2 linked regions of the Homo sapiens genome follow. The protein of the gene in region 1 interacts with the protein of each later gene in a pairwise test. Each region holds a gene or a part of one and is shown in the gene's direction. Other genes may lie near its edges. The genes, in order: ERICH2 and MACROH2A1.

Region 1 (5,389 bases):
CCACCATGCCTGGCTAATTTTTGTATTTTTAGTAGAGATGGGGGTTTTACCATGTTGGCCAGGCTGGTCTCGAACTCTTGGCCTCAAGTGATTCTCCTGCCTCAGCCTCCCAAAGTGCTGGGATTACAGGGTGAGCCATAGCACCTGGCTCTCTTTCTTTTATTTCTATGTGTCAGTTTTAATATTTTCTATCTACCTGTTTTTGGTTTCTTTATTCTATCTTCTGCTGTATCCAATATGCTGTTAAAACTATTTAGTGAGTCCAAGGTTGTCTTTTCCAATTTTAGAATTTCCATTTAATGATCTGGAAAGATTCTGGTTCTTTGTTGAACTCTATCATCTTTTCAACTATTTTATGCATCTTTTTCTTCTAACATATTAGTGATAATACGTTAAAAAAGAGAAAATAGCAACTCTACAATTAAACTTGTTGACAACAAGACTCAAAATATTAAGCAGTGTTAAACTTAAATTCATTCTTACAGTAAAGTCCTTAAGTGAAAATGTAGCACAAGGATTGAGTGACGGTCTGCCCTGGCTTGCCTCACAAGAGTCCCAACTGTGGATAGAGTACTTCTAGATCATTGGCTCATTTTACAAATTGGTTTCTTGAATACTTCAACACTTCCTATCTTGTATCTGAGGTAAATAATCCTTTCAAGCACTTTTGACCTTTAGAGCCATTGAATAAAATATTTTAGTCAAACTTATTTTTGGTGACCCACAAATATAGAATTTTTTTTGAGACAGGGTCTTGCTTTGTCACCCAGGCTGGAGTGCAGTGGCACAATGTCAGCCACTGCAGTCTCAATCTCCCAGCTCAGGCAATCCTCCCACCTCAGCCTCCCTAGTAGCTGGGACTACAGGTGTGTACCACCACACCCACTAATTTTTGTATTTTTTGTAGAGATGAGTTTTGCCATATTCTCCAGGCTGGTCTTGAACTGCTAGGCTCAAGTGATCTGTCTGCCATGGCCTCCCAAAGCAATGGGATTACAGATGAGAGTCACTGCATCCAGCCAGAATTTCAAATTAGAAGGAATCCTGATAGAATCATGTTCAATTCTCTATTTTTATAAAAACACTGAAGTATTATTATTACTATTTTTGAGGCACGGTCTCACTCTGTCACCCAGGCTGGAGTGCAGTGGTGTGATCACAGCTCACTTCAGCCTTGAACTCCCATGCTCAAGGGATCCTACCACCTCGGCCTCTCAAGTAGCTGGGACTGTGGACACGTAAAACCATGCCCAGGTAATTTTTGTATTTTTTGTAGAGGCGGGGTTTCACCACATTGCCCAGGTTGGTCTCAAACTCCTGGGCTCAAGGATCCTTCCACCTCAGCCTCCCGAAGTGTTGGGATTACAGGCATCAGCCACTGCACCTGTCCAAAAGTGGTTTTTAAATGGAACTGAAAGTCAAGAGTCCAAAGTACTTTACGTTTCTCCATTCATCTCATGAGTGACTATGAGATTTGGTGCCAATCAATCTTCCTATTTTTTGGTCACTTCACCTGTAAGTCAAAAGCCTGCAGCTCAGTCTCTTTAGGGTACCACACTTCTGCTCCCAGGCAGCCTGAGATTCTCTACATAATACATGGAGGTCCGGAAGATTTATTTAATAAATCATCAGTTGTAAATGTTAAAGAATAATGGCTCAAAAACCAAAATACTTCATGCCATTATATGTCTAATGCAAATACAGATATACTGTATCTTCCAAAAATATAGTTCCTACAAAATCTTCTATTTATTTTTGAATAAAATAACTCACTCTTTCCTATTAGCCTACAGTATACTTTTAAAGAAACTAGTATCTAAAGAAGCAAGCTGGAGAAACCCTCTTCTGGAAAGAAGCTTAGCCTCAGAGATTTAGACTATTAATGATAAGCATATTTTAGTCCAAGGTAAAATGTGCAAAAAATTACTTTGCTCAGAAACCTTATGGGTATGTATAATGATACATAAAATACTTACAGGATCCTTAAAAGCAGCTTCTAAGCAGGCACGCAGTCATGCTAACCCAGATTGATGACAAATTGTTAGTTATGTTAGTAGATTAGGAAATAAAGTCCCTTTTTTGTGTATCAAGATGAAAGCCATGGGTGGGATCCTATGAGCCAATGGGGTCTAATTGAACAATCCACAATGGTTATCTCTCTCTCTCTCTTTGTTTTTTTTTTTGTTTTTTTTTTTTTGAGACAGCGTCTCCCTCAGTCACTTAGGCTGGGATGCAGTGGCACGATTTCAACCCACTGCAACCTCCATCTCCTAGGTTCATGTCATCCTCCTGCCTCGGCCTCCGAAGGAGCTGGGACTACAAGCACGTGTTACCACGCCCAGCTAATTTTTGTATTTTTTTGTAGAGACAGGGTTTCAGCAGGTTGCGAAGGCTGGTCTTGAACTCCTGAGCTCAAATGATCCACCTGCCTCAGCCTCCCAAAGTGCTGGGATTACAAGTGTGAGCCACCATGCCCAGCCTCACAATTGTGTCTTACTTTTAGCCAGATGAAGAGCACACTTGATGTTTCAGTGCCCCCCTTGGAGGCCACCAAGATATTGAGCAGGAGTCACAATATTAAACGGATGATGCAAAATTATGAATACTCCTCAAGGCTGGTAGGAAGAAGTAGAGAGAGATCTGTGGAGCGAGATCTAAAAAAGTGAATAAAATAGTCTAGACAACTCTGAAACTAAGGGTATAAATCTTTCTGGCCTCTAGGATTTTGCTAACATACTAACAAGCCTAAAAAAGTCTATTGTTGTGGTCCAAAAGAAAGGTGACACAGTGACATAAAGGATCAGCAGAAAGGAATAAATAGTACTGAAAACAATGGGTCCAATGAAGGTGGAGAATGTTGTTAAGCAGGCAATGACCAACGTGTAGACTACAGTAAAAGTTGTCAAGATGAAGAGAAAGAAGTAACATCAGTTCCCCTATTGGAAAGATGTAACAAAATGGCATCTCTAGCATGGAAGAGGTTGCATTAAAAACAAACAAACAAAAACTTCCTCTGTGTTCCGATGAGACCTTTAGTAAAGGATGTCATGTAGATGGGTGGATGACATGAGATGAAGGATTAACAGACCTCTAGGCACACAGTCTTCTCATTAGCAAAGTCTCCATATTTTGCAGAATTTGTACCTTCTTTGGGAAATGATTATGTTCATGAAACACTCTGGCTACTGTCCTATGAGGGAAGCTATATTGAGGTGATAGAGATTGCTTTCTATGGATAGGAGGTAGAAAATATAATGAGGGCTGGGTGCAGTGTCTCATGCCTGTAATCCCAGCACTTTGGGAGGCCGAGGTGGGTGGATCACCTGAGGTCAGGAGTTTGAGACTAGCCTGGGCAACATGGTGAAACCCTGTCTCTACCAAAAATACAAAACTTAGCCAGGCGTGGTGGCACACACCTGTAGCTACTCAGGAAACTGAGGCACGAGAATCACTTGAACCCGGGAGGCAGAGGCTGCAGTGAGCCAAGATCATGCCACTGCACTCCAGTCTGGGTAACAGAGCGACACCCTGTCTCAGGGAAAAAAAAAAAAAAAAAAAGAAAGAAAGAAAATATAGTGAGGATCATTTATCTTCCAAAGTGCAAAATAGAAGTGCAGAATTTTCTCTATTTGTACTCAGATATACCTGTGGTATAATTGTTAGTGTTTATTGCATTGTGCCTTTCACCTGCTCTGACTGACAGTTCAATTTCATTCTAAGGAGCCTGTTTGCTGCAACACTGAACGTTAATAACACACATTCTGTTGTCCATTTTCATTTTCAGTCCTAATCTATGAACCAGAAAATCCTGAGGCCAAGGAGTTTTTCACACTTATTGAAGAAATGTTGCTGATGGGTAATTTTAAAAATTGAAATTCCTTGTTTCTCATAGAACTATAAGCAGTCACTTTAAAAACCCATTATCCCGGGAGATTGTCGATACATCTTTAGGAAGTGGTTAAGAAAAGGCTAAATGGCTGTCTTAAATGGTTTAGTGAAACAGCTTGTCCTCTGTGGATGGTCACAATGACCCCCTTCTCTCTGTGGGATAGAACTGCCCGAGCAGAGCAGGCTCCCTGGGCACCAGGCATCAGGTATTGACAAGCAGAATATGCTAACACGGCTGCGTGTTAAAGGAATTACCCACAATTCCAAGGGAAGCCACACCCTCTCAATTACCTTGTCTCAATTCCTTTCAATGGACAATTTTACTATTGTCAATAAAATTCTATGATAGAAAGAATTCTATGAAATCGTTAAATAGAATTTCATTGACAATAGTAAAATTATTTTTATAGACTTATGTTTTAAATTATCAAAAACACCTGTATGCCAGTAAAAATACATTTCTTCTTTGTACTACCATTTGACCCTAGTGCAGTTAGCCAAGTCCAACTCAGTTCTTATGTTACAAATATATGTATTTCTTGGTAGAGGGAGGGGCAAGGAGAATTATTTTTCAGAGTGAAATATTAAGAAACACCTTAAGCAATCCTCTTCCTTTCTGTGGCAGAGAAAACTCAGAATCATGAGCAAGACGGTGAAAACAGTGATGAAGACAGCAGTGGTGAGAGTAAAGGAGAAAGCGATGAGGAGCTGAGTGACGAGAGCTCTGACGAAGGTGAAGATGGATCATGAGTGTTGCTGCAATACTTGAAGCTTCATGTATTTTCATTAATGTATACCATGCAAATATAAAGACAAGTGACATTTTAGTCTAATTCTTCCTTATTTGGTACAGTTTCTTTTAAGTTATCTATATTCTTGGCTTAAGACTCTTCCTAATATTTAGGCCTTAGCTCAATATATGAGTTACTCAGAGAGGAAAATAGTTGAAAACACTTACATAGGACTGTGTGCCAGGTACTGTTCAAACTGCTCTACACACATTGTATAATTCAACAACCCCATTAAGTACTATTATTATGCCATTCTACAGATGAGAAAACTGAGGCACAGACAGGGTGAATAATTTGTCCAGTATCATACACCTATTTGTTTGTAGAGCCTGGATTTGTGCATGGACATTATTGCCCCAGAATTCATATGTTTAGTTCCCTATAAATTACCACCATTTCAGGCACTTTTATATCATTCATCATTTGTTTGTTTGTCTAGATAATGGGATCTTGCCACATCAACCAGGCTGGTCTCAAACTCCTGGCCTCAAGTGATCCCCCCATCTTGGCCTCCCAAAGTTCTGGGATTACAGGCGTGAGCCACTGTGCCCAGCCCATTCATTGTATGTTCTTTACAGCATGTATCAGTGTCTGAAATGCTTGTTTAATTGTTCATTTCATCTTCTCCCTACCTGCCAGAGAATGTAACACCCATGAAGCAGAACTTTATCATTTTCCTCATAATATCCCAGCAACTGGACAAGTACCTG
Region 2 (7,278 bases), on another chromosome or scaffold:
CCCCGAAGGTCACTGAGACCCTTCCTGGAGGTACAAAAAGTCACAACTATTTTCATGTTAACATTAAGACATTATTTGACTTTTCCCTGTGTTGATCTTTGCACAAATGGTGCAAGAACAGTAGTGGATAAAACTGCTGGCGACTTACCACAAATCAGCAATGGCATCATCCCATACTCATCATCATTTTATTATTTATTATGAAGCACTCACAGCCAAAAAAAAAAAAAAAAAAAAAAAAAGAGAGCCAGTTTAACTTAAGAATGTCCTGATGAAACAGTAAAAAGCATTAATTTTATTAAATCTGACCCTTTGGAACACATTTTAAAATATTCCACGTGACCAAATGGGAAGTACGCATACAGCATTTCTACTAGGATGGTCATCTTGAGGAGAAGCACGTGTGCAATTGAGCTGTGAGTTAAACTAGCTGCTTTTCTCATGGAACACTAGCTTTTCTTGAAACAAGGGCTGACAGCAAGGCTGCATTACACTTTCATGGCCCTAGGCACTTTTACCTTCATGAGTCCCTTCTTCTATAAAACAATAGAAAAAAAATTTTACAACCGTGTTCGTAGAAAGACAAATATATTAACATTATATATTAAAATATTTTCTTCAATATAAAAGAACTAACTTTCATTTTCTTCTGATTTTAAAAGAAATTAAGACATTTTCGTGGGCCCATAAAGTCCTGGGGGCCTGAGTACTGTTTCTAATGGAGAAGCTACACCTGACAGACAAACTATGGGTATTCAGAATTGGGTGTACGTAGGGCTGAATACTCCACGAGGCACAGTTTTAATATACAATATTAATTTATTTGTCTTTATACCAGTGCAGTTGTCTTTTTAGTGGAGGAAAGGGCCCATGCAGGCAAAAATGCCTATGGCCCATGAAAGTCATAATGTGGTCCTTTGTTTGTGGTAGACATTTTCTTGAAAATGAATGAAATGAACCTGTCATTTCTAGGAAAATCACTGTGACATTATGTTGTCAGTGATAAACTTGAGCTTTCAAGCAGAAATTACAATTTTGGGAAACTCGTATCTGCCACCAAGAGCTTGACAACTTCCCAATACTCAAAAACCTTCAGATGAGATCAGTGGTGCTATTAATAGATGTGATTTTCTAATATTGTACAATGAAATGTGTTTACATTTGTAAGATCCGTATAAATCAGTGAACTGATATTTCCCAAATGATCAATGTATGATTTTACCAAATTATGCATAGCTAAAGGACCCAGTCAAGATATAAAATAGGCCAATGGATTTTAATGTATTAACTGAGTTCAAAAGTTTATTGATTTTTTTTTTCAGGTTCTACATTGCACTTAACCTTTAAGAAACGACTCCTTGCATTTTGGTGTGGTATGAAAAAAGAACATCTGTAATTATCTGAAAAGGCGATTAAAATCCTCTATTCTTTCCCATATACATATCTACATAAGGCTGAATTTTCTTCACATACTTCAAACAAAACAACATATAGTGACCGACTGAATGCAGGAGGAGGCATGAAACCAGCTATCTTCTATTACACCAGACATTCAAGAGCCGTGCAAAACTGTAAAACAATGCCACTCTTCCCACTAATTATTTTTGTTTGGAAAGTATAATTATTTTTCTAAAATACATTATTTATGTAATATAATTTCTTTCCATGTTAACATTTTTAAAATAAATTAATAAATATTTACTTTTTCTCAGTTTTTATTTCTAATAAAGCAAATATTGATAGATGTAACCTATAAAACAAAAGCTCTTCAGGGTTCTCAGTAATTTTTAAGAGGGTCAAGGGAAACCCAAACAGTTCCAGTAATGTTATTGTAGAACAACTACCCAGTAAAATGCTCATAAAGAACCATTAAGTTTAAAGTGCAGGTGACAATCACTAAATAGAGTAGAAACTCTGTATGTTTAATGTTAAGTGGATATAGATAAAAAGGCTGGAATGGGAGCAGGCTGTTCTCTCCTAGCAATGAATGTAGAGTGAGTTTTATTTTTTGAGCATTTTTATTTTTCATGTTTTCAGAATGAGCATAGCTTTGTCATTGGAAAAAAATAAAAAACCTTTAACAGAAGAAGAAGCAATAGCAGCAGCAGCAGCTGGTACCCCTCTCTGAGCCAGATTAGGGGAGGAGACAGGTCACCGAAGTGGAAGAACAGGACACACAAAGCGCAGGAGGAGAGAGGGGAGAGAAGGTGGAGGCTTCTGGAGAAGGATGAGGTCAGAGCTGCTGCACTGAACAGCTCCAGAGGACAAAGGTCCTAGTGTGTTCTATGAGAATGGCACGCTGTAGAGGGGCATGGAGGTGGGGCCGCCCCAAGATCAGCTCTTGGAGGAGTGTAGACTTTAATTCCACCTGGTGGTCCCTACAGAACGGAGAGTCCTTGCCCAAAGGCACAGAGAAGGATGGAACAACAATGTGGTGTGTGGGGGAGGGTCTCTGCACCTTTCCTGACATCTTTTCTTCGGGAGATCCTCATAGAACCATAATGCTTTGTTTTGGGACCAGAAGCATCATAAGCATCATCATTTTTCCAGCTTCATCTCCTGTTACTTTCCCCTTCACCCATTCTACTCCAACCTCACACTCGCTCTGTCTTGACTATTTTGGACACACTCCTACCCCAGCCTTTGCACTTGCTATTCCTCATGCTCGGCGCAGTTCTTCCCCAGACATCCACACGGCTTGCTCCCTCAATTTCTTCAGGCTTTAAATGTTACTTTCTCATAGAGGCCTTCTCTTGTATTTGAGCCTCACTCTTATCTCACACTTCCTATTCCCCTTCTCCGCCTTATTTTTCTCCACCCCATGGAGACCCTCTGACACATTCTCCCGTTTGTCTGTCTTTCCCCCACGAGACTGCAAACTACAGGAGGGCAGAGATTTCTGCCTGTTCTCTTGGCTGTTTCATATCCAGCACCCAAATCGATGTATGACACAAAATACGTTCTCAGTACTTAATCGAATTAACGAATGCATGAATGGCAGGTATTGGACATTGTTTTGCAAACTCTTAAAGTAAGGTGTAAAGCATCCCGGTGAGGTGGAGGTTACTGCCGCTGCGATTCCCGCGCAGCCTGAGGACTGGGGGGTGGGGGTGGGGGTCTCTAATTACCTCCATAATCCCCAGTAGCGGCACTTTAAACTTCACATCAACCCTGAGGGATGTGTATTATTATCCAAATTTAGTTCACAGCTGGATGGAGAAGTGGCTTCCGGCTCCACACTTTGGAGGGAGGGGAGTAGAGGGCAGGCCCCCATTTAAGTACCCGGGATGGGGCACCAATGCCTTCAGGCGGTAAACCAATTTAGGAAGACGTGGCGGGCTTTGTGGCGGCTCCTCCTCTTTCGGCCTGTCCGCAGTTTTTAAAAAACGTGTGTGATGATAAGGAATCACTGTCTACATTAGTAATTCCCAACTTGGGTCCGAAAGTGAACTTTTGCTGAAGCGAAGTAGCTAACCGCTTCCATGTGCAAGGCAGGTTCCAGACTTCGGGGTGAGGAGGATTAACTGAAGGACCCCAGGGGAACCGGGTGCGCAGTAATTGATCTTGGGGCAGACCAGGGCTTGGCGGTGGCCTGTATCTAAAGACAGCGGGGTCTCTGAGGCGGGGCAGGGGGGAGTTGGCATTGACTGGGGAGGGAAGAGCGATCGCTGGTAACAGCCATTGTGCCTTCCCACTGGGTTAGTGGGAAGGTTCCTAAAGATGCCGTGGCAGCGACAGTCCCGTGCTCAGAGCCAGGCACACAGTAGGCGTTCACTCGAGACGCAGAGTCTGGGACGCGCCCTGAAGAAGCTCCTCTCCAGGGGCCTGGCCCTTCCCAAGGACTGGGCTCTGGGCGTCCCCGGGGTCATGGGTCAGACCTCGCGTCCGGGGTGCGGGCTGGTGCCTGGGCGCAGAGCGGCCGGCGTCAACGGGTAGGGCGCGGGCCCGGGGTCAAGGCCGGGGCGCCGGGCGGCACGGGCGCGGAGGCCGGACGCTCGGGGCCGCGAAGGGATGTGACGAGCGGCGCGCTGTGCATTGTGGGAAGCCGGCCGCGAGGACTGGTTCCAGTTCACTCGGCAGCGGCGCCGGGCGGAGGGGGAGAGCGCGGGCCGCGCGGGCGGGAAGCGAAGAGGCGGGCGGGCCAGCGAGGAGCGCGGAGAGAAAAGGCGCGAGCGGCCAGGAGGGCTCAGGCCGAGACACCTTGCAGCTGCCGCCGCCGCCACCGAGCCGCCGCGTAAGTGCCGCGCGGGCCCCCTTGCCGCACTCCCTGTCCCCGCCGCTCGGGTCCGGCCGCGGGTGCCCGGGAGCGGCCCGGCCTGGCGCGCACCGGTGTGGTGCGGGCCGGGCTCGGGCCGCCGGGTTCGGTGTGGCCCACGCCGGGTCCTCGCGCGTGCACTACGTCCTCCCAGGCCTTGTCGGGCCGCGCGGGATTCCCTTTGGTTTTGTTCAAAAAAGAAACCTGGAAACCAACTTCTCTTCGAAACGCATCCCCCTGCCCGCGCCTGGGCGCTTTTGTGGGAAAAAAGCGGTGCTGGCGCCTACCCTGGCGACCCTTCCTGGGGCGGGCTCACGGGCCAGGCCCGAGGCCGCAGGAGGCCCCGCGGCGCTGGCTAGGCAGTCTGGGCCTGGGCACCCGGGAGCTGCTGTGAGCAGAGTTGTACTTGGTGAGGCCCCCGCCGGCCCGCGAGTTGCCGGCCCCGGCACAATAAGTCGGGCCCGAGCCCCGGGGGGCCGAGGTGTAGGCGTCTGGCTCGCTATCTGCAGGGAGGGGAAGGCGGGGGCTACTCGCGGGATTGAAGCCGGGCTGGTGCGGGGGACCGGGTTGGGGAGTGGTCCAAGGATGGGCTGGAGAGGGGCCACGGGAACCCCCGCTGCTCCCGATTGTCTCGGTATCAGCCTTTTGTTTGCTTTGTGGTAGGAAGGGTTTGCTTTTTTTAAAAGGTAACTCCGGAAGGCTGTAGGCTTCCCCGGGTGGAGAAGGCCAGCAGGAAAGAGCCTCGCTGGGGGTGGGGTGGAGTGGGGAGGTGAGTGTGCAGGATGCTGCTGGCAGTGTCACCTGACAACAGGTGTGCGACATGGCGCTCCCTACCCCCACTCCTGCAGGGGCCACAGATCACTCAAGGAGTTGGTCAGTACATTGCTTGAAAGGTTCTTTTAGACAAGATGTTAGGGGAAATGTTTCTGAGTTTCAAAGTGAGAGACTTCTGTACAAACAACTGGGACAAACCTTGAATTCAACAATTACAATGACTATAAAGGCCTTGTAAGATTTTAATGACCCAGTAAACAGCACATAAGAATAGACAATTAGAGGGGGCACTCCTGCTAGCTTCCCTCTTTTCTTCCACCTTTGTGGTTTGAGGTTTTACCGTTAAAGTAGGGGGTAAGGGAAGTGTTTTGTTCCAAAGCTCCCTGCTCCAGGGAGTCGGGCATTTTTTAACAGTCTTAGGTTTGAATGGGAGACTCGAGTTGTAAATTAGGTGGAATTCACCTACTGCAGGCCACCTTTAGGCTACTAGCCTGTTGTCAGAGGTGTTAACTCTGAAATGGACACCTCTTGCCTGCAACTGGAATTAATACCCATTGTACACATTTAACTAGAGTTGGGCAGCAGCATCTCAGTCTTGCACAAGAGACTCTCTGATGAGGATGAGTATGTTTTCAAACTTATTTTTTCTTAAACACAACAAAACTCTTGAAAGACTTCAAATTCTTCCCCCTTCTAGTTTTACAAGGAGAGAGAAATCTTTCCAGTCTGTTCTTTGGCTTCGATCTGTCACCATTGTTAATGCTGATCCCTAGATAAGGCATTAAGAGGGTTGTCTAAATGAAAATTGTTTGAGGCAGGCCTTTAGAAGGAGGCATAATTTAACTCACATTTTATTAAACTTTAAGAATTGTCTGGAACTTCACATGTGACATTCTAGTATACAACCATGCCACTGGTTTAGTTTTTACCAAATGGGCCAGTGTCAGGGAGTGACACATCTCCATCTGATGTTTCTTCTGGTCCCTGAGAGAGGCGAACTTGAGGAGCGCCTCGCATTCCTTCCCCACTGAGAAGCTCAGAGGGCATGTGTTCTGGGACCTGCCTTCAGAGCTAATGCGGCCCCAAGTCACCTAAAGGAGATTTATTTAAATAAAAGCATAAACTGAAAACCTCAAGCCGAAGAACCCAACAAGACTCTATATGTGTTGTTCATCAGAACTGCAACAGCCTCTGGTTTTATTTGAGTGTCCCCAAGGATTTGTGACAGCCTTTTCAGAGCCCCATTCCTAGAACATGGGCTGGGAAGGGGCAGGAGTGATTGGGGCCCAGATCTCTGTGGGTCCTTCCCATATTCTGTAGGTTTAGAGGTCTTTTGGGCCCTGCCTCAGTGCTTACAAGTGAGCCTGAGTGAGTCAACTCTTCATTCCAAAGAGTTGTATAGCTTGTTTGCTTGGACCAAACCTGTCAGGTCAGTGTCTCAGAGTCTTTCCATAAAGATTTCCTGAGAATCAGCTCCTGTTCAGGCACTGGGGACACAGCCGTGATTAAGAAATGCCTAGCCCCTACCTTGGGGGAGCTGACTTTGGGAGAAGGCAGGCAAGTAGCTGTTGTAAAATCAGTGCAAAAGGCCCCACGTAGCCCCCCAGCAGGTACAGTAACCTAGCCAGGAGTGAGCCCTTATCTGGCTTGGAAAGGTCAAGCAGGAGATGGCTGGGCAAAGGAGGGCAGATGGGGACAAGTGTTTGAGGCCTGGGGAACCCCATGTGTGCATCTTAGAAGAAAAGAACAGAGGTCATGTGGGGAACTGCCAGAGGCTCGGGATGGCTGAGTCCTGGTGCGGAGTCAGGTGAGGCTTCAGGGAGGGACAAACAGGACAAATCACAAAGGATTCTGGTCAGACCCACACTTTATCCTAAGAGCAACTGAAGGGTTTTGAGCAGGAGAGAGACAGGATCAGGTGTTCTTTTTATTCTTATTGGGAACACGTCTACTCGGCAAATAATGAGTGGATTCTACATGCTAAGCCTTATCAGAGTCCTGTCCTGTGAAGCCCACACTTTAACTTTTCTCTAAATAGCCTTCCGTGAGACTGGTTATCTTAAGAGTTTGGCACAACCTTTAAAAGAGAGAGGAGTATGTAGAAAAGTTTTTTTGTAAAGCAGGCAGGCAGTAACTTGCTGTTAAAATGTAGCAAGCTGCACAGTTCCTTCAGTGCATCTCGGGAAGCGCATCACCGAATGGGTTTGCAGAGGTGAAATTTCAATCCCAGACTAGCTTCCCCAAAACTG

The links.
Region 2: the proteins of ERICH2 (region 1) and MACROH2A1 interact in binary tests that used the Homo sapiens proteins (3 or more experiments, as listed by UniProt).

What each region holds. Positions count from the first base shown.
Region 1 is NC_000002.12:170,794,257-170,799,645, forward strand, and holds the end of ERICH2 (glutamate-rich protein 2), read left to right. Parts: intron 1-3,784; coding exon 3,785-3,856; intron 3,857-4,513; coding exon 4,514-4,638; 3' UTR 4,639-4,721; downstream 4,722-5,389.
Region 2 is NC_000005.10:135,396,018-135,403,295, reverse strand, and holds the start of MACROH2A1 (core histone macro-H2A.1), read left to right. Parts: upstream 1-4,064; 5' UTR 4,065-4,234; intron 4,235-7,278. UniProt on the Homo sapiens protein: Variant histone H2A which replaces conventional H2A in a subset of nucleosomes where it represses transcription. Nucleosomes wrap and compact DNA into chromatin, limiting DNA accessibility to the cellular machineries which require DNA as a template.